Homo sapiens: one gene and its partners. The protein of the gene in region 4 purifies or fractionates together with the protein of the main gene of each other region. This does not show direct contact. Each region holds a gene or a part of one and is shown on either strand. Other genes may lie near its edges. The genes, in order: MME, DHX37, IFT81, SLX9, NOP14 and PARN.

Region 1 (2,886 bases), on a different chromosome or scaffold from region 4:
TTTCTCACTGTTTTAGAGGAAATGCAAAATACAAAGAAGCAGAAATTAAGAAACCATTGTTAGATAAAAGATTAGAATGCGATAAACATGTGCCAGTTTGACCACCAGTCAGATGTGACTCCTCTGTCCACTTGACCAACCAAATGGTCAACTTCTTCAGACTAGAGACTGTGGATAAAGACACTTACTTTTGGCTTTTGCCTAAGTCATCTGATTATGCTAGTGACTCCATATAACATTTGATGGCCATTTCACTTTTGAAAAAAAATCCAATCAGAAAGTCATGGTGATCTTTGAAAAAGGGTGGGGAAAACAAGGACATAATGGATACAAAGCTTATATCATTCATTTTCTAAAAATTCAATTTGAAGCTAGTGGGAAATGCAAGACTACAGAGATAAAAGCTCCATTTAATCTTAATATTTTTCAAGAAATAAATGGGGTAGAGATTTACACAGGAGTTGGCAGTTTGGAACAGAGTTGACTAGGCATAAAAGCAATAGTATTAAAAACGTTTGTTTTTATTTTGTATTTTTGAGACTGGAAACTGATAAAAATTTCTGATTAGGAAACTTTGAGAATAGAGTCTTTCTTCTTTCCAAAATAACAAATGTCTTTTAGTTTGAGAGCTCCAGCTGTGGCAACAAGAATGATAAATGCTTTTGAGAAAATTAGCAAGGTTTTGCCCCACTTAAATGGTTAACAGTAACAGCAGCACAGACCCAAACTTGATAAAACTTTGGTACTTGTTATTTGGACTAAAATTTTGTCTCACTCGATTCAGACACGTAAATGGGAGTTTTCAGTTTATCCTGCCCACTGATTCATAACTGGGAGACAGATTCATGGGAAGGCAGCATTGGACACATACTCCTTCTCTTGCTGAGAACCACCAATATAATCTAATTCTCTTTTTTTAGGTGAGAGAAGCAGAGGCCCAAAGGAATATTGCAAATACCCAAGGTCACCCTGTCAGGAGTGGCAGAATAGGGCTGGAACAAGGACTCTTTTCTCTGGACAGCTTGCACCTACAATCCTTTCCATCTTGCACCTACAATCCACTCGAACACTGCAGCATGGAGGCAGACTCCTTGCCAACGGGTATTGTCGAGAGCTTCTTCCTACCATCATTTGTGAGTTTCATCAGCTCCCAACCCTTTGTGTCTCAGCTTCTAAACTTTCTTTCTTTGACCAGAACTCAGCCATAGTAGAACTGGATTTATGGATGGAATTAGAGATATGTCTTATCTGATGTGACAACTCCAAAGAATCGGTAGTGCTTTAGAGACATCAGAAGGCTCTACAGAACTCAACAAGAGTACCATGTAAAATTCATGATGTCTGGATGTGTGAGGGATAGGGAGGCATTGCTATTTTTGACTTTGATCTATCCTTTAGGCCCAGAAAATCTTATATTTGTAGACAGAGGGGATCCAGGCACTGGAGAGTTGTTCCTCCATAGGGATGGGAGCCTAATGTTTTAAAAAGCTAACAGTGAAGAGTCTAGTGGCTTTTTATAATTTGTACTAGTCACTCTTCACTTCTGGCTCTTCACCTGCTCTGACATGATGGAAATAAAATAAGTTAGAGACAGCTGTTTTATTAGAGCTGGAAGCTCCTATTACTCCAACTACAAATGTCACTTAGGTAAGTTTTAAATGTATTTTAGGGAAATATAAGTATACTTGTAACGGTGGTTGTGATAAAGGAGGAAAGGGTAAGGGTATCCACAGTTGGCTTGAAACTATAATTTCAATGCTTATAATAATTTTTGGAAGGATTTGAAGAAATAAGTCCATTAAAGGCTCAAGTAAGATGGTAACATGCAGTACATTCATAGTTGCACTATTTGTAATAGCGCCAAAATGGAAAGTTCTCAAGTGCCCATCAACAATAGGATGAACAAATTGTAATAAGTCCCACAATAGAACATTATTCTGCAATGAGAATGAAAAGATCCACAATCAGCACAATACAGAGGAATCTCACAAATGTAAGGCTGAGAGAAAGAAGCCAGGCACAAAAGAATACATACTGATTGATTCTATCTGCATAAAAGACAAAACCAGGCAAAGCTAGTGAATGATATTAGAAGTCAGGATAGTTGTTGTTCTGGGAGTAATAAAGTGACAAGGAGGTGCTTTTAGAGCGCTGGTACTGCTCTGTTTCTTACAGGTGCTGGCTACAGGGCCATTGTTCAGTTAAAGTTAAGTTTATTGAACTGTATACTTATGCTTTATGCAATTTATGTACATATGTTATAGTATTTCTGTAACTTTTTTTTTTAAAGGCAAATGGGCATTTTTCAAGAGACAGGGAACTAATACTCATCATTTAGATAGAAATTCCCTGCTTTCATCTTTTGTTAGGAAAAATAAGAATTTTGGAAGTGCTCCTCTTTTGTAAAATCTTAATCAAGTAATGAACGAAAATAGTCAATACAACAGGAAAAGAGAGGAACAGAAGCCTCAAAAGATGAATTCCTATCAAGCAGTAAACAGTTCTTTTCCAGAACTCTTTGTGACTTATAATTCTAGAAGGTCCATCAGAGGCCTCCCATTTCTATTCAGAAATGCACTTCTAAAGTTAGACAGTTGTCACAGTCTTAGGGAGCAATGAGTTCACAATTTCAATTTATTATCAAAATATTTCCATCTGATGACAAACCTGAAAAGACAGGAGATGCAGAGCTACATAGGTGCAGATTTGCCCTTTTATCAGAGACACTCTCAGGGACAGATTTAATTTTGAAAGTCCAATTTGAAAACCACAAGTATATATATCTCTAGACAACTGTCCAATGGCAATTTTTACCCTAAAGTTTGTGCTTAAATCTTTTCATCAATATGATTTATAAGTTTAAATAGTCTCAAATTTTCATCTGTA
Region 2 (3,500 bases), on a different chromosome or scaffold from region 4:
CGGGTCCAGACACAGCCCCCTCTTGGGAGCTTCGAGTCCAGTTGCGTTTGGTGAGGGGCAGCACCAGACTCGGAGTGGGGTACCAGCCTCAGGCTGAGGGAAAGGGGAGGGGCCGCTGGGGCTTGCCCTTGAGCGTCTTCACGGTCCCTGGCCTCAGAAGCTGCGTCCCAAGGACTTTCCATTTGTAAATCGGAACCCCAGCTGCTGCCTCCCTAGTCAGCCCACTTGGGCCTTGGGGAAGCACCCCATGCTTCCTAGGGAGCCGGCCATTCGGTCAAGTGGGTGGCACGCGTGTCCAGAGAGCATGCAGGGCCCGGGTGGGGGACTGCTGTCTGGTGAAGAAGCTGTGCTCCGTGCTGGCTGTGACGTCCCCTTGGGCAGGGCCAATCTCCCAGGGGGATGGCAAAGGTGATTCCAGCCCTCCTGGCTTTGAAGCCACTGGGACTCCTGGGGGTGGCAGTGGATGCAGTTTGGGTCTGGGTGGCCCCTGTCTGTGTGGCACCTGCTGTCCAACTGCCCACGGCCCCACCCCACATCTCATGTCCATTTCCCACCTGCCCTCCCACTCTGCGGGCATCTGAGTTGAGCAGCTCACCTCTGATGAAGAGCAGCTGCCCTTCCTCTAACACTGTCTCCTCAAGTGGGAGTTCTGGGACGTGAAGCGGCCCTTGGGGCTTAGGCTGGAAGGGTGGGCCTCACCCCGGACCTCCCCCCAGGACTTCCTGCTGCTGCGGTACAAGGTGGTGATCATCGACGAGGCCCACGAGAGGAGCGTGTACACGGACATCCTCATCGGCCTCCTGTCCCGCATTGTGACTCTCCGGGCTAAGGTAGCGCAGGAGGCGGGTGCTGGGGAGCCCCGAGCCCTAGGCCCCCCCCAGCTCTGTCAGAGGCTTGGGCTTCCTTCACCTGTTCCCCGTTGTACCCTGGGCTGCTGCCATGAGCAGGTACCCCGAGCACAAGGTCTCCCTGGGCCTAGGTCTAGGCCTAGTGCCAGGGCTGTGAATCTTGGAACAGCCCCTGTGTGATCCCCTCCCCACCGCCCCGGTGCCAGCCTCATAAACTGGTGTCCTTCTCCCCATCCAAAGCAAGAGGCTCAGGAGAAGTGTTGATGCCTTGCCAGGCGCAATGGGGCTGGTTGATGAGGCCTCTGGGCCTCTGGGATCAGCAGAGCAGGTGGGCCTGCCCAGCCAAGGGCCAGGCTCCCGGAGCTCTGAGAGGGGCTCCCCAGGGCCTCTTTCTCCATCTCCCTGCCCCAGCCTGACACAGGGGCCTGCTGAGTTGGTGGGTGCCACCCTGGGGCGCGGCTTCATGCAGTAGGCCTGTCTCACCCTCCCGGCGGGGAGAGGGGCCTGCGCTCCACATGTGCCATGAGCCTGGCCACATTCAAGGCCCTGAAAATCAACAGTGAACAAGACGCTGTCTTGTTCTAACAGTTCCTGCCCTCCTGGGGCCTCCACTTCAGCAAGGGTGGCAGGCAGGACGCAGACTCAGAGTATGTGAGCCAGTGACAGACAAAGCCGGGGGCAGTGGAGGGAGGACACAGGGCTAGTGAGGGCTTCACCCGAAAAGTGACCTCTGAGCTCAAGTGGAAGGCTGAATGAGGGAGGGAGTGAGCGGCGTGCATTGCAGAGCGAGGAGAAGTCTGACTGGAGGAGAGCAATGCAAAGGTCCTGAGGCGGGCGTCTGCCTGGTGCCTTTTTTCTTTTGGTAACAAGCTTTATTGGGCTGTGATTCACATTTCATATCATTCATCTGTTCAAATGTACAATTCAGTGGTTTTTAGTCCGTTCACAGAGTGTGCAGCCATCACCACAGTTTTATATTTTGTCACTCATCAATCCAACAAGAAACCCTAGGCCGGGCACGGTGGCTCACGCCTGTAATCCCAGCACTGTGGGATGCTGAGGCGGGTGGATCACTTGAGGTCAGGAGTTCAAGACCAGCCTGGCCAACATGGTGAAACCCTGTCTCTACTAAAAAAACGAAAAATTAGCCAGGCCTGGTGGCGCACACCTGTAATCTCAACTACTCGGGAGGCTGAGGCAGGAGAATCACTTGAACCCAGCGGGTGGAGCTTGCAGTGAGCCGCGATCGCGCCACTGCACTCCAGCCTGGGTGAGAAAGCGAGACTTCATCTGAAAAACAAAAACAAAAAGAAACGCTGTGCCTTTTATGGTTTTTTGTGGTGGTGGTTTTTGTTTTTTTTTTTCGAGGCAGGGTCTCATTGTCACTGAGGCTGGAGTGCAGCGGTGCAATCACAGCTCACTGCAACCCCGACCTTCTGGGCTTAAGGAATCCTTTTGCCTCAGCCTCCCAAGAAGCTGGACCATGGTCACTCTGTGTGTAACCATTTGCAAATGATTTCCCCCAGCGGCTGCAGAATTCCATGGTACTTCCGCACCAGCAGTGTCAGAGCTTCCAGTTTCTCCACATCCTGCCAGCACTTGTCGTTTTCCATTTCTGTTATTCTAGACATCCCTGTGGGTGGACAGTGACACCTCACTGTGGCCTTGGTTTATGTCTTTGGGGGCCATCAGGAAGTCTAGAGTGGCCAAGCAGAGAGGGTGAGGTGGGGTCCGGAAGGCACGGGGGTGAGGCAGACAGGGACGGTCACTGTGGGGCAAGAGAGGGGCCTGTGCTGGGTGTCCTGCCTCCCACAGAGGTGCTTTGGCCACTCCTTAGCTTCTGGGTTTGGGGTTTCGTAGCAGCAAAGGCAGCAAGAGCTTGAAGCAGAGCTCACCATGAGGCCATTAGGCATTGCTGAGCGGCCTGGGGACCAGGGAGCTCCCGGGAGCTCTCTCCCACCCCCCACAGACCCCAGAGAATCAGGCAGCTCTTCCCTGAGCCCCCGGCACAGACACTCAGTCAATCTTGGTGTCAGGTGGGAGCTGGGTTGGGTGGGCCCCAGTCTCAGCCCACCTGCCTCATATTCTACCATCAAAGCCTGACTCTGAAAGACCCCCTGGAACAAGCCACCGCCCTGGGAGCGGCAGGTCCCACTATTGACTCACTTTCTCCAAGGAGCCTTTGGCATCCAGAAAGGGGCAGAGGGTGGGGGCTGGAAACGGGGTGGGCAGCAGGGCACCCCCATGCCGATTTCCCAGGCTTCAGACCCACCTGCGGTCCTGGGGCCACGGTCACTGAGCCTGTCCTTTTGCAGAGGAACCTGCCACTCAAGCTGCTCATCATGTCGGCCACGCTGCGGGTGGAGGACTTCACCCAGAACCCACGGCTCTTCGCCAAGCCGCCGCCGGTCATCAAGGTAACACAGGGTCCCATGTCCTCTGTGAGCTTGGATGGCACAAGGACGCCCTGGTGTCGGGAGCCCCCTGAGAGACCTCACTTGGTCACAGGGGGGATTGACAGCAGCTTGGAGGGGGTGTTAGAAACCTTGATTCGGAATAATGGGGAAAGGGAAGGCAGCCCTGGGCCGAAGCTCGTGTCCCCCCCACTCCCCATGCCTTCCTGGGCGTCCCACAGGTGGAATCCAGGCAGTT
Region 3 (3,500 bases), on a different chromosome or scaffold from region 4:
AAAACTTAATAAAGAATGGCTCTTCTGAAAACAAAATGCTATACAAATCAGTTTCAAAAAAGAAATACATTATGAGATTAGGCTTATAGCTAGTGGTATCAAGTAAAACCCCAAACGATGACACAAGAATTCACAGTATTAGCCGGTCCTCCCCACCCTCCTGAATTACCTGACCAATGGAAGTTTGGCTTTGTTGTTTCAGAAAGCACTGTTTCTTACATTCCATTAATTGTTCCAAATCACGCCACATTTTTGCTTGTTTCATATTTGGACCATGACTTTCTCGTATAACTTTTTGTTTTTCCCGAAGTTTCTATCATTAAAAAAAAACAAGAATAATTAAATCTCAGTTACAGGGGTTTATTTCTATTGCTATAGTCGGAGGAATATGGTATGTTTTCTACAGTAGATAAAAAATAGTTAGCTAAACCACATACTCTATAATGTACCAAAACTAAGATTATAAAAGTTAACTAAGGCCAGACGAGGTGGCTCATGTCTGTAAACCTAGCACTTTGGGAGGCTGAGGTGGGCAGATCATGAGGTCAGGAGATCAAGAGCTCTACTAAATCCAACACTAAGTCAAACTGTTTGCCTTTCTAGTTCTCCAAAAAAATACAAAAAAAAATTAGCCAGGCATGGGGGCACGCGCCTGTAGTCCCAGCTACTCGGGAGGCTGAGGCAGGAGAATCGCTTGAACCTGGGAGGCGGAGTTTGCAGTGAGCCGAGATCACGCCACTACACTCCAGCTTGGCAACAGAGCAAGACTCTGTCTCAAAGAAAATACAAAAAACAAAAACAAACAAACAAAAAAAACTACACAAAACTATAAAAGGAAGTGAGAGAAAAAGATAGTTAGGAAAGTGGAACAGTATCATGGTGTGAAAAGAAGAATGTAGAGTTTGGAAGTCAGAAGACTTCGGTTTTAATCTGGTTTTGTCTCCTCTAGTGGTAAGCAAGGCACTTAATTTCTTGGGACTTCAGTTTTCTCAATTATCAATTAAGGTTAATAGACCAGGCATGGTGGCTCACGACTGTAATCCCAGCACTTTGGGAGGCTGAGGCGGATAGATCACTTGAGGTTAGGAGTTCGAGACCAGCCTGATCAACAAGGTGAAACCCTATCTCTACTAAAAATACAAAAATTAGCAGGGCATGGTGGCGTGTGCCTGTAGTCCCTGCTACTCAGGAGGCTGAGACAGGAGAATGGCTTCAATCTGGGAGGTGGAGGTTGCAATGAGCTGCAGTCGTGCCACTATGAGACTCTAAGTCAAACTGCTTGCCTTTCTAGTTCTCCAACAAAAACCAGCTAGGAGGATATACATGACATATTACTCAAGAATGTACAGTTATAGCTCATATAGCTTTAAAATAATTCATTTATTAGCCTAAGCCTGAGAAATGTCCACATTTTGTTTTAGAATTTCCATTTACATAAAAATTTCTCAAGAAACCAACAGGATCAGTATATTCTATATACTAAAACCTAATACTTATTTATTCAAGATATAATTATGAAGCACCTGTTATATGTCAGGTATGCTTGGAGTTTCAAGTGGAAAACAGGACTCATGCTATATAGGTGGGCAGATCACCTGAAGTCAGGAGTTCGAGACCAGCCTGGCCAACATGGTGAAATCCCATCTGTACTAAAAATACAAAAATATGAAATACAAAAATTAGCCGGACATGGTGGCATGTGCCTGTAATTCCAGCTACTCAGAAGGCTGAGGCAGGAGAATTGCTTGAACCTGGAAGGCAGAGTGAGCCAAGATTGTGCCACTGCACTCCAGCCTGGGCAACAGAGTGAGATTCCGTCTCTGGAAAAAAAAAAAAATTAAGGTGAATAATAGGAGGCTGGGGGCTGGGCACGGTGACTCACACCTGTAATTCCAGCACTTTGGGAGGCCAAGGCAGGAGGATTGCTTGAGCTGGGGAGTTCAAGGCCTGCCTGGGTAACATGATACTCTGTCTCTACAAAAATAAAAATTAAAAAATTATCTGGGCATGGTGGTGGCACATGCCTGTAGTCCTAGCTAGTTGGGAGGCTGAGGTGGAAGGGTCACTTGAGCCAGGAATTTGAGGCTGCAGTGAGCTATGCTCTCACCACTGCACTCCAGCCTGGGCAACAGAGCGAGATCCTGTCTCTTAAAAACAAAACAAAACAAAACAAAACAAAACAACCAAACCAAGGCTAATAATAGGGGAAAATAAAAGTATTTACTTGGTAAGATTATGTTTTCAAGTGACATAATAGATATTGAAATACTTGATAAATTATCATGTATTATATATATCCTTGTTATTAAATGTTATATTCTATCTTATCCTGAAACAGTGTATACTCTATTTATGTCCAAATAAATCAAATTGTATGCACATATACTTCAGAGAGCAGGCCCAGTGATTACGAAAATAGTACACTATTAAATAAGCCAAAATCCTTCTTAGAATTGTTTTTGTTACTAACATCTTAGATGGTCCACCTGCCAAAACTGTTTTACTCATTGACTCTAAAATTTTAAACAGGAATAAAAGAATCTTCAATAAATTACAAAAATATACTTTAGTTCTATATTATGGCAAATTGAGGAAGGGTGACTGAAAGCAAGAGTAGACACAAAGTCAGAGACAATAAGTGACACGGTAGGAAAAAAGAGAGAGAGAATCCAGCCTGGGCAACAAAGTGAGACGCCCCTGTCTCTACAAAAAAAAAATTTTTTTTTAATTAGTTGTGTATGGTGGCACATGCCTGTGGTCCCAGCTACTCAGGAGGCCGAGGCAAGAAGATCACTTGAGCCTGGGAACTCAAGGCTGCAGTGAGCTGTGACCATGCCATTACACTCCAGCCCAGGTGACGAGTGAGACTGTCTCAAAAAAAAAAAAAAAAAAAAAAAAAAAAAGAAGAAGAAGAAGAAGAGAAGAAAAAGAAAAGAAAGGAATTCATTCATAATCCCATGTGCTAGAGACAACTACAGTTGACATTTTGGTAGAGAAGGTGAAAGTGCACATAGAACGAAATGCAGTGTGTTGGAAATATCTGTACCGACACCGAGTGTGAGAAAATCACCAAGAGGGACAGAAAAGCAAGCAGAGACACAGAGGCAGAGTGCAAAGGAACAACCTCATCCTTTCCTCTTTTAACATACGGTCAATATACTAGTTGATCTGAGACACAAATGAGAATGCTGGTAGTTGGTACTTGCCTAAATAAGAGGATTAACTAAGCTGAGGACCAGAGTCAAACCACCCATTAAATACTGCCCACCCAGCTATGCATAATGAAAGCAAAGTTAACAGCAAACAGGAATAGAAAACAACACAGAATTTTAAAAATATAAATATAACCAGTAAATTTTTTGATGCAATACCTGGCATATTAATACATCTATTTAAGTTTATGTTACAAATAATGTATCTTACAACAAATATTTTATCCTTATAAACTAAAAAGTATTTAGAAAGGCCATTAAGGCAGACCAAGAATTTTAAGACTTCTG
Region 4 (3,500 bases):
TCTGACCCCCTTCAGAAACCTCTGTTGAGGTCGATGCTGCCTTCCCTGCCAAGGTCAGTGAGGCTTGCACATGAATGGGCTGGGCAGCACGGGGGTCAGGGACGGGGGGGTTCTGTCTCCTCACGGTTTGGTCGGCAGCTGACTTGGAGGAACTGAAATCTTCATGCAGGGATGAGTGTGGCTCAGAACCAGACCTGGCAGAGAGGCTGCTGAGATGACTAGTTCTGATGGGATGTGGTCAGTCTGAGCTGAAAGAGCTGTCAGGCTGGGAGCTGCCTATCCTTCATCTGCTCAGCTGCAGGTTTCTTCTGTGACACAGGAGAATGTTGTAGAAAGAGTAAGACGAAATGGTTGGGAAGGAAATTTGGTTCTTGAGATACTGGTCCTGACTCCTGAAGAACCAGGAGTGAAGCCCGTCTGGTGATTGAAGGCAGGGAGCAGGTGGGCCTGGGCGCTGCGGGTCTGCCCTGGAGCTCTGGAACCGGAGGCTTCTGCTCTGGGAGGTGAGGGTTGTTTCCCCCAGGTCCTCCCGGGCAGAGAAGCTGGGGAATCCAGGTTCTTGTCTTGCATCTTCTCCTCACCTTTAACGTCCCTCTGAAACCACAGAGCAAGTCTCACACCTCTTCTTTTCGTCCGTTTTTGTTGGGGACATTAGGACTGGGCGTTCATCAACACCAACATCTTTGCCAGGACCAAGATAGACCCCAGCGCCTTGGTGCAGAAGCTGGAGCTGGACGTGAGGAGTGTCACTTCCGTCAGGAGAGGTGAGGCAGGCTCGAGTGCACGGAGCGTCCCTTCCATCAGGAGAGGTGAGGCAGGCTCGACGGGTTACCATGCTGATACCCAGCAGGTCTGGGATTGTTCCCTCAGGCACCCGAGGTCTCAGCAGCTTTCCAGCTAACCTGTACCTGACAATGTCCTTGAGCAAGGGATGCCCCTGGCTGTTTCTTGGGGCGATTCCCCAGAGTAGATTACAGCTGTGGTTTTGCCCCTGGGCTGCATCATGTCTCCGCAGCTCTGCAAGAACTGCTCTGCGTCCTGGCAGCCACGCTGAAGCCACAGGAACTTGGGCTTTGGTGACCAACAGGGTTTGAACTGTTTTCTCCGTGTGTGCTGATTCTTTCGGTCTGTCTGTATGTTTGGGGCAGTTTTGATCCTTTTCTTAAACAAGTGCTTTATGTGTTGCAGAGGTTAGCTGCTTATCATTTTGTACAAATAACTCTTGAGGGTTTAGATCCTGAAGCCGAAGCAGGGTCCTCTCAGTTTCATCAGATCCATGCGCAGCCCTTCCCGTCTCCTGGTTGTGCTCCTTGCAGCCCTGCAGCACACACGTCAGCCTGGCCAGTGAGAGGGTCTGGGAACTCCCACTCACTCCAGTGTCCGGAGCTTAGCAGGGAACGCCGTCCCCCTGCACCTCCTACTGAGTCTGAGGTGTTTTAGAGAGTTCCCGGCCACCATGGTCAATGCTGGGAGTGTTGACTTTCTGGCTGGAGGATGGTGAGCAGTGTCACTTCCCAGGGATAAATCCAGGAAAAAGCTTCCTTCACTCATCTAAGGGAGTCGGTGAGGAGCACAAGGAATACTTTTTACATCTTGACAGCCTTGGGAAGTCATAGGTTGGGGAGGGAGAGGGCCTGGCTGTGGGGGCAGAGCTCAGGGCACCAGTGTGACAGTGAAGACTGCATGTGGCTTCACAGTCGGCAGAGCTGGGAGCGCCAGGACAGGGCAGGAGCCGGGTCTGGGGCCTGTAGATGGCCCGTTAAGATCGTGGGCTCTGGGCCTCTGCCCCTCACCGCCTGGTAGCCTCTGGCTGGACACTTGATCGCTCTGGGCCTGGGCTTTGCATCTGTCAAAGGAGGTAACAGTATTTATCTCCTAAGTTCTGGCAGTTTTGAGTTTGAGATGAGGTAGTTGGTGTGAAACGTTTAAAACAGTGCAGTGAAGGCTGTGGAGGCGCCCGCTCTGCATCTGTTGAACGAGGCTGGTCTGGTGGGAAGGCTGGGGACGAGTGGGTTTTGCAGCTGCCCAGAGGTGGGCCAGCCCTAATTCCTTGGGCACAAGTCATGTGATCACGGGTGCTCTGTGACCCTTAGCTCCATTGTCCACAAAGCGGCGACAGACATAGCTCATAGATGCTAAGGGCCTCACTGTGCCTCTAGAAAGATCCAGGTACATTTAACCAGTGCAGGTTTCCTGCTCCTTCTCTCCAAGGAGGACCTGGTGAGGTGACCAGGCCAGGTAACTCCAGAGAGAAGCTGTGCCTTCCAGCCAGGAACGCTTGATGTGGGTGGTCCGCCCGAGCTGTGTCCCTGGTTGCTGACAAGGCCCTTAAGGCTGTCCCCAAGGGGATGGGAGTCGTGGGTCTCAGTGACCTGGCTCTGGCCTGAGCTTCTCAGAGCTCTTTCACACAGCAGCCTCTTTCCTCTGCCTTTTCTTGGCCCTCTCCCTTCAAGCCCCTGTGGCTCATCTGGTCCCCAAGGTCACCTGCTGCACTGACTGTCACGTCCCCTCTTCCCCTCCTAATTTAGGGAGACGTCACGCTCACGACCCGTCTTGCCTACCAGGGAAACTCCTCTTTAGCAACATCTGGCCTCGCAGCGTTCTTGGGCTGAGGTCGTGCCCAGCAGCCCTGTGGCCTCTCCTTTGAGCCATGCTGGATCTTTGTTTTTGTTTGTTTGTTTTTTGTTTGTTTGTTTGTTTGGAGACAGAGTCTTGCTCTGTCGCCAGGGTGGAGTGCAGTGGCTTGATCTTGGCTCACTGCAACCTCCGCCTCCTGGGTTCAAGTGATTCCCCTGCCTCAGCCTCCTGAGTAGCGGGGACGGGACAACAGGCACATGCCACCACGCCCAGCTAACGCCACCACGCCCGGCTAATTTTTGTATTTTTAGTAGAGATGGGGTTTCACCCCGTTGGCCGGGATGGTCTCGATCTCTTGACCTCAGAGATCTGCCTGTCTTGGCCTCTCAAAGTGCTGGGATTACAGGTGTGAGCCACCACGCCCGGCCTGGTCTTTGTTTTTCGTAAGCTCAAACCTCATTAATTTAGAGTAACTGGTGGGAGAGGGTAGAAGCTTGAACTTTACAATGTCAAAGATTGATTTCAAATTTCAGAACCATGTTATCAGAGTAGAGCATAGAAGTGTTTTCTTGAAATAATTGAACAATAAGTTGAAAAAATTTGAAGATTCTATTGTTTGTGAGTCTGTTGGGTAATTAATTTTTTTCTTAATTCACATACCCTTATTTGTGCATAAAAATCTTAAAGCTTGTGCTGACGGGACTGTAGCGTGGCCCGTTCTGGCGCTCCCCAGCCCTGAGCTCGTGCTGACAGTAGCGTGGCCCGTTCTGGCGCTTCCTGCTTGTGTGCAGGTGTTTCCCATAGCCCGCCTTGAGGGGCACGAGGATGGGAATTATTTGAGCCGTGCGGCAGGGTCAGGGTTTTGGGTGTTGGGGAGGAGCCTTGGCCTGGGGAGGCACTTAGTGCTTCTGGCCAGGAGCCGG
Region 5 (3,500 bases), on a different chromosome or scaffold from region 4:
CTTGGGAGTGTGGCTTCACTCCGTAGTCATCTGCTCAACTGCAGAACTGGCAGACGCCCCCCGTCAGCTCCCACTGAGCCCACAGCCCTGGCCTCCCAGGGAGATGCTGCCAGCACCCACACTTTGACCAGCCGGGGTGTGAAAAGCTTCAGTGGGACAGGCTTGCTCTTCTCACAGGTCAGCGGCCGGCAGAGCTGCTTCTGGCTTTCCATTTCGGTCAGTGTGCTCTGACACAGCTCCTGAAAAACACGAAATCCCCGACTCTGCGATGACTCACCTGCTGCGTGCCCTGAGCTCCACGCACGGGTTCTGTGGTGTCAAGGCAGCGTGAGGACAGTGCTGCGAGCTCCCTGCAGCAGGATGGTGCCCTTGCTGTGCGCCTACCGGTGGGCGGGGGGGTAAGCCAAGGCTGTGGCTGCTCAAGTCCTGGCACAGCCGGAACGAAGTAAAGCCACTGTCTTCTTGAAGAGGGAGGGCCGTGGGCTGGCCCCTGAGAGCACTCTCTGAAAGGAGGGGACTTGGGGAGTTGGAGGTCACCATAGCCTGTGCTCCTCACAGCCAGAAACGTCAACAGAACCCCTCTTTCCCAGACAAACTTGGCACGAAAGGCCGTGAGCCACTTGCTTCGTGAGAAGGCTCACAGGAGAACCCCTTTCTGCCGCGGGGGGCCGTGTGCATGCTAGAGCCCAGTGTGCAAACTGACGCTGGGTGCTAGGCGGGGCAGGGTTTCCACCAGTCTTGGCAGTTTGACCTTATTTTCAAGCCAACAGAACCAGATGGTTAAGACCCATTTTCACCAAGACCTTGGCTTCCAGAAGAGTTGGCTGGTGGCTTCTGAGGAATCTCCCGAAAGGTAGTTCACTGAGGTTGGTCCTACCCGCTTTCTCCTGCACAGGTGTGTCCTGGAACCCTGGCTGCACCCACAGATACAGCCACTCCTGGGCCCATGTGGATGTAACCTTCGAGTGCCGGAATGCCTCGTCTCCATGGAGACCAAACTCAAGGGCCTGACTGGCCCAGTCTACCGAGACCATGAGACCTGCTGTGCCCCTCGGCCAGGCCAACCCAAATTCTTTTAAATAAAAGGCACAAGCCACAGCCACACCAGCAGGAAGTGGATACAGGATAAGGGGCAGGGCTCACATCTCATCCTCATCAGCCTTTGACCAGGCGACGGAGTCTGTGATAGCTAGCTTATCTGCTCTATGCTCCAGGGACCTGGCCGGAACGAGCCGAGTTGCTGTCCTCATGGAACTCTCATCCTAGTGGGGCAGAGACAAGGACGGTGTAACGTGCCCGGGGGTCAGCACCACAGACAAAACGCAGGGAGCACGGCACAGTGTGGGCCAGGGAAGGCCTGGCTTCCCAAGGGTGTGGGCGCGAGCAGCATGGCTGTGGGGAGTTCTAGGTGCAGAGAACTACTCCAGAGACGAAGCCAGGCCTGCGAGGAGGCCGGAGCGCATGAGGGGAAGGCACGAGGCAAGGCTGCCAGGGCTGTGCTGGTGGTGCGGGACGGTCCTGTGGGGGTAGCTGCGGAGATGGCACTGATGCCTTCGGCTCCAGCAGCATCCTGGGCTGGTGCGGGCCAATAAGGGGCAGGGTTGGGGCAGGATGAAAGGCACAAGCCACAGCCATGTCAAGCAGGAAGTGGATGCAGGGTACAGCCTGTCAGGGTCAGGGTGAAAGGCAGGGAGGCGGGTAGGCCATAGGTGAATTTGGAGCAGCCTGTAGAGGACAGGATGTGCCATCAAAGACTTGTTCTTGGGTCCAGCTGAGACTGTCCCTTGGGGCTTCCTGTCACCTTGTGCAGGATAGTGAGACCATCCTTGGAAAACCCATCGGGACTGCAGAGCGCGGCTCAGAGCTGACTGTCCAGGCCTGGCAGGGGCTGACCCCTGGGCGCTGGTGCACCCTCCGTGCGGCCTCTTGGAGGAAGCACACAAGGCGACAGTTCCCAGCTGCCGCCTGAGATGCAGCATCTGCTTTACTCCAGCCCAGCACTGCTCACCGTCACTGCCCACTCTTATGATTTTACTTCCCTTCATATTTGTGATTTTGCAAAGATGGTGTTGACTTACAGCTGCAGCATCAAATGACTGACTGCCACCAGCTTGGCCCCAGCTCAGGGACATGTCTGAGCCCAGGCAGAGCACCCTAGTGGCCGGGAAGCCTCACCTGGAGCTCCTGCGGGTGGCTGCAGTCCGCCAGGTGATCCGTGAGGAGGGCTTGGAGAGGCCCCATGATGGCGTGGAAGGATGGCAGGGACCCGTACATGAGCACGCAGCGCTTCAGCAGGGCCAGGCCCACAGCCAGGCAGGACAGTCTGTGAGGGCAGGAGGCAAGAGGAGGTCCAACTTGTTCTGTTTGTCACTGACAAAACCAATAACGTGGCAAAAATGAACTTCCCCACTTCCACTAGGCTGAAAACTCCAGTGTGGCCACCTTGGCCGGCCAGGGTTGGGCCCATGCAACCACGGGCAAGGCAGGCTCAGGGTCAGGCCTAACGCAGGAGGGGAGGCTGTGGGAACCGCAGCGCCAGCTGGGATGGGGCGGCTCCATTTTTGGTTCCAAATTATGATTTGTGAAATCAAGCAAATGTATTTTGAAAATGAAAAGAAAAAGGGACAGCAAGCCAACATGCCTCAGAAAGGCTTTCGGCCTCCATCAAACCAAACGGCCGGGCGGCAAGTTCACTAAGAACAGCACATCAGAAAGCACGAGTGGCTTCTCCTGCCTCTGGGGACGCTGTAGGGCACAGGCCCCAAAGCGGGGTCCCCTCACATACCGGATGTGATTGGCCTCTGTCGAAGTTGGGGCCCTCAGTCTACTCGCCCAGCGGAGGGAGAGGCTGCTCTGCTGCCACGTGGCCACATCCTCTCTAGCAGACACCACGAGCAGTTCCGAGTTCTTCCCAAGCGCTCTGAAAGGGTGCACCAGAGTGGAACCTGAATTCCAAGTGCGACAGGACAGAGATGGCCTGAACATTACTGGGCTCCCAGCAGGCTCTGCGGCACCGAGCCTGTGGAAGTTCACCCTCTAACAGACGCACACCGATTTTTATGTTTCTGGGTTGTGCCAGACACTGAGGGTTTCAGCGTGGGCAGGGACACCTCAGGGGAGGGGAAAAGCTTTGGCAGGGGGCGCGGTGAGAGCCAAGTGCCTGATCCTGCCTGAGAGGCCTGCTGGCCACAGACTTCCTGGGGCCTACTAGGCACACATGGGGCTGATGAGGCGCTCAGGCCACATCCGGGAACAGACTGAAGTCCCTGCCCCTGTCGGGGAGACAGGCAGTGCACAGCACCCAGAGGAGCAAATGGACCAGACAGAACACGAGAAAGGAAAGTGGAGGGGCAGGAGGGAGACAGGAGAGTCAGTCGGGGGTGACGGTGGAGGGCGGGAGAGGCCTGAGGGGCAGACGTCAGCAAAGGCCTGTAGGACGCAGGAGTCAATTCACTCGCCACGGAGAAGGGCAATCCAGGCCGAGGGTGTGGCTACACGGG
Region 6 (3,500 bases), on a different chromosome or scaffold from region 4:
TTTTATAGAGACAGGGTCTTGCTGTGTTAACCAGGCTGATCTAGAATTTCTGGGCTCAAGTGATCCTCCTACCTCAGCCTCCCAAAGTGCTGGAATTACAGGCTTGAGCCACCGCACCCAGCCTCCTGACCCTTCTTATAAGGGCACTAATTCCCTCGTGACTTAATTACCTCCCAAAGGTCTCACTTCCAAATACCATCGTACTGGGGAGGCTTCAACATATGAATTTTAGGGGGACACAAACATTGAACCTATAGCACTACCATTTCCTTGGGATCCACTCACCCAATTAAAAGTGGGAGGGTTTTGAGGTAGGAGTGGGAGGAGATGAGGGGAGGAGGAAATCTGCAAGAAAAACCACTGACACTTGCTGTGGTATGGTACTTGGTGCGTAAGAATACCTTTCACAGGCCGGGCGCAGTGGCTTACTCCTGTAATCCCAGCACTTTAGGAGGCTGAGGTGGGTGGATCACCTGAGGTTAGGAGTTTGAGACCAGCCTGACCAACATGGAAAAACCCTGTCTCCACTAAAAATACAAAATTAGCTGGGCATGGTGGCACATGTCTGTAATCCCTGGTCCTCGGGAGGCTGAGGCAGGACAATCACTTGAATCTGGGAGGTGGAAGTTTCAGTGAACCGAGATTGCGCCATTGCACTCCAGCCTGGGCAACAAGAGTGAAACTCTGACTCAAAAAAAAAAGAATACCTTTCACACTTGTTGAACCATGCTGTTAATTTAAATCTGTTTTGGTCTGAACTTTCAGGCTTGGTCTATGTGACTATGAATAATAATACCTCTCTTCTTTTCTTCATTAGGTTCTTTTCTCAGCCCTCCAAAAATTCATGTGTCTGCCAGATCAAAACTCATTGAACCTTTTTTTAACAAGTAAGTAATCAGAGAGTTCCAGTTTCCAAGTTCTCTCACTGTGGAACAGCCTCATATCTTGGGATGTCAGTTTGGAGTTATTGGGAGCTATAACACATTTTTAGATAAGCTGTTTTTCATCTCGAGTGACTCACATGTTTTTTGAAAGTAGAAAGTGACCTTTTGGGGAACAAATGTATTAAAAATATAGGCTTAAAAAAAAAAAAGAAAACATTGCTAGACGTAGTATAGTAGATCTCTTCCAAGAAAAAGAACTGGTAGTTCTGGCATTTAAATTTCCTATGAGGGGCCGGGTGTGGTGGCTCACACCTGTAATCCCAGCACTTTGGGAGGCTGAGGTGGGCAGAGTGCTTGAGGTCAGGAGTTCGAGGCCAGCCTGGCCAACATGATGAAACTCGTCTCTATTAAAAATACAAAAATTAGCCAGGCGTGGTGGCATGTGCCTGTAATCCCAGCTACTCGGGAGGCTGTAGTGGGAGAATTGCTTCAACCCAGGTGGCAGAGGTTGCAGTGAGCTGAGATTGCACCACTGCACTGCAGCCTGGGCAACACAGCAAAACTCTGTCTGAAAAAAAAAAACAAAAAAAACAAAAGAAAATTTCCTGGCCAGGCGCGGTGGCTCACGCCTGTAATCCCCCAACTTTGGGAGACTGAGGCAGGCGGATCATGAAGTCAGGAGATTGAGACCATCCTGGCTAACACGGTGAAACCCCATCTCTACTAAAAATACAAAAAATTAGCCGGCACGGTGGCGGGCGCCTGTAGAAAACATGATTTTCTTAGCTCTTTTATTTTTTGGGGCAGTGTTTGTCTTTGGAAATGTAGCCTTTGCTGTAGACCATGGAACCCACAGGTGATTGATGTTAAATATAGTTCTTTTTTTTTTTTTTTGAGATGGTGTCTCACTCTGTCACCCAGGCTGCAATGTGGAGTGCAGTGGCACAATCTCAGCTCACGGCAATGTCTGCCTCCTGGGTTCAAGCAGTCCTCCTGCTGCAGCCTATGGAGTAGCTGGAACTACAGGCATGTACCACCACACCTGGCTAATCTTTATATTTTTAGTAGAGATGGTGTTTCACCATGCTGAATAGGCTTCTCTCGAACTCCCTGACCTCAGGTTATCTGCCCACCTCAGCCTCCCAAAGTGCTGGGATTACAGGTGTGAACCACCGTGGCCAGCTAAATATAGGTCCAATTATGATTGTTCCCTTACATTTTTATGTACTTGATGTTAAATTCATTGTTCTGCAGTATTTTTCAACTGAGAGATGTTGACTCATTTGTATTATTATTATTATTTTTTTGAGTCACGGTCTTGCTCTTTTTTCCATGCTGGAGTGCAGTGGCATGATCTTGGCTCACTGCAGCCTCCACCTCCTGAGCTCAAGTGACCCTTCCACCTCAGTCTCTTGAGTAGTCATTTGTAAATATTTACACGCTGTAAATATTAAAACAGTAATCCTGCTTCTCCACTAAAGTCAGCTCCTTATAAAATCAGATGTTGGATGCAAACTGGGTTAGATGTGGGCTGCATCTAGTTTATCAGTCATGTATGTGACCAACATGCAGAGCAATCAAAATAAACTTTGATTAAAAAGCTTAGCTGGGCTGGGTATAGTGGCTTACGCCTGTAATCCCAGCACTTTGGGAGAACAAGGCGGGCAGATCACTCGAGGTCAGGAGTTCGAGACCAGCCTGGCCAGCATGGTGAAAACCGGTCTGTACTAAAAGTACAAAAATTAGCCTGTATTCCCAGCTACTCGGGAGGCTAAGGCAGGAGAATCGCTTGAAACCAGGAGGCGGAAGCTGCAGTGAGCCAAGATCACACCACTGCACTCCAGCCTGGGCAACAGAGTGAGACTCCCTCTCAAAAAAAAAAAGAAAAAAAAGCTAGCTGAGACTTTCTGTATTTCTAGATCAATCTAATATTGCTAATACTGTGCAGGACTATTATTGAAAAGAACTAGACAGTAAATGTGTAGGCTTATTTTGAATTGGGACATCTGTCCATTCAGAATTTTTTTGTAAAACCTAGATGCATACCAAGAGTAGTTGAATAGGAGGTGGGATTTGGGAATCCTTCTGTGATTATTTTTTTGGTCTATTTTTTTCCAATCTGTAAAGGAAGAATATTTTCTTCATCATTAAAGGAAAAATATTCCTGCAAGATTTGAAATACAAAATAAGAACTGTGTTTTTTTTCTTTCTTTTTTTTTTGAGATGTTGTTTCACTCTTGTTGCCCAGGCTGGAGTGCAATGGCGTGATCTCGGCTCACCGCAACCTCTGCCTCTCGGGTTCAAGTGATTCTCCTGTCTCAGCCTCCCAAGTAGCTGGGATTACAGGCAAGTGCCACCATGCCCGGCCATTTTTTTGTATTTTTAGTAGAGATGGGGTTTCTCCATGTTGGTCAGGCTGGTCTCGAACTCCTGACCTCAGGTGATCCACCCGCCTCGGCCTCCCAGAGTGCTGGAGTTACAGACGTTAGTCACCGCGCCTAGCCAAGAACTGTTTTTATTCCTCTTTTTTTTTTTTTTTTTTTTTGGTGAGACAGAGTCTCACTCTGTCACTTAGGCTGGAGTGCAGTGGCGTGATCTCAGCTCACTGCAACCTCC

The links.
Region 1: the proteins of SLX9 (region 4) and MME purify together in Homo sapiens (co-immunoprecipitation; one study listed by IntAct). This does not show direct contact.
Region 2: the proteins of SLX9 (region 4) and DHX37 purify together in Homo sapiens (affinity purification with mass spectrometry; one large-scale study listed by BioGRID and IntAct). This does not show direct contact.
Region 3: the proteins of SLX9 (region 4) and IFT81 purify together in Homo sapiens (co-immunoprecipitation; one large-scale study listed by IntAct). This does not show direct contact.
Region 5: the proteins of SLX9 (region 4) and NOP14 purify together in Homo sapiens (affinity purification with mass spectrometry; one large-scale study listed by BioGRID and IntAct). This does not show direct contact.
Region 6: the proteins of SLX9 (region 4) and PARN purify together in Homo sapiens (affinity purification with mass spectrometry; one large-scale study listed by BioGRID and IntAct). This does not show direct contact.

Annotation. Positions count from the first base shown.
Region 1 is NC_000003.12:155,181,319-155,184,204, reverse strand, and holds the end of MME (neprilysin), read right to left. Parts: 3' UTR 501-2,886; downstream 1-500. UniProt on the Homo sapiens protein: Thermolysin-like specificity, but is almost confined on acting on polypeptides of up to 30 amino acids. Biologically important in the destruction of opioid peptides such as Met- and Leu-enkephalins by cleavage of a Gly-Phe bond.
Region 2 is NC_000012.12:124,968,632-124,972,131, reverse strand, and holds part of DHX37 (probable ATP-dependent RNA helicase DHX37), read left to right. Parts: intron 1-716; coding exon 717-830; intron 831-3,163; coding exon 3,164-3,265; intron 3,266-3,483; coding exon 3,484-3,500. UniProt on the Homo sapiens protein: ATP-binding RNA helicase that plays a role in maturation of the small ribosomal subunit in ribosome biogenesis. Required for the release of the U3 snoRNP from pre-ribosomal particles.
Region 3 is NC_000012.12:110,214,857-110,218,356, reverse strand, and holds part of IFT81 (intraflagellar transport protein 81 homolog), read right to left. Parts: intron 314-3,500; coding exon 131-313; 3' UTR 1-130. UniProt on the Homo sapiens protein: Component of the intraflagellar transport (IFT) complex B: together with IFT74, forms a tubulin-binding module that specifically mediates transport of tubulin within the cilium. Binds tubulin via its CH (calponin-homology)-like region.
Region 4 is NC_000021.9:44,943,029-44,946,528, forward strand, and holds part of SLX9 (ribosome biogenesis protein SLX9 homolog), read left to right. Parts: intron 1-655; coding exon 656-809; intron 810-3,500. UniProt on the Homo sapiens protein: May be involved in ribosome biogenesis.
Region 5 is NC_000004.12:2,939,407-2,942,906, forward strand, and holds part of NOP14 (nucleolar protein 14), read right to left. Parts: intron 2,946-3,500; coding exon 2,786-2,945; intron 2,324-2,785; coding exon 2,176-2,323; intron 240-2,175; coding exon 121-239; intron 1-120. UniProt on the Homo sapiens protein: Involved in nucleolar processing of pre-18S ribosomal RNA. Has a role in the nuclear export of 40S pre-ribosomal subunit to the cytoplasm.
Region 6 is NC_000016.10:14,578,261-14,581,760, reverse strand, and holds part of PARN (poly(A)-specific ribonuclease PARN), read left to right. Parts: intron 1-817; coding exon 818-887; intron 888-3,500. UniProt on the Homo sapiens protein: 3'-exoribonuclease that has a preference for poly(A) tails of mRNAs, thereby efficiently degrading poly(A) tails.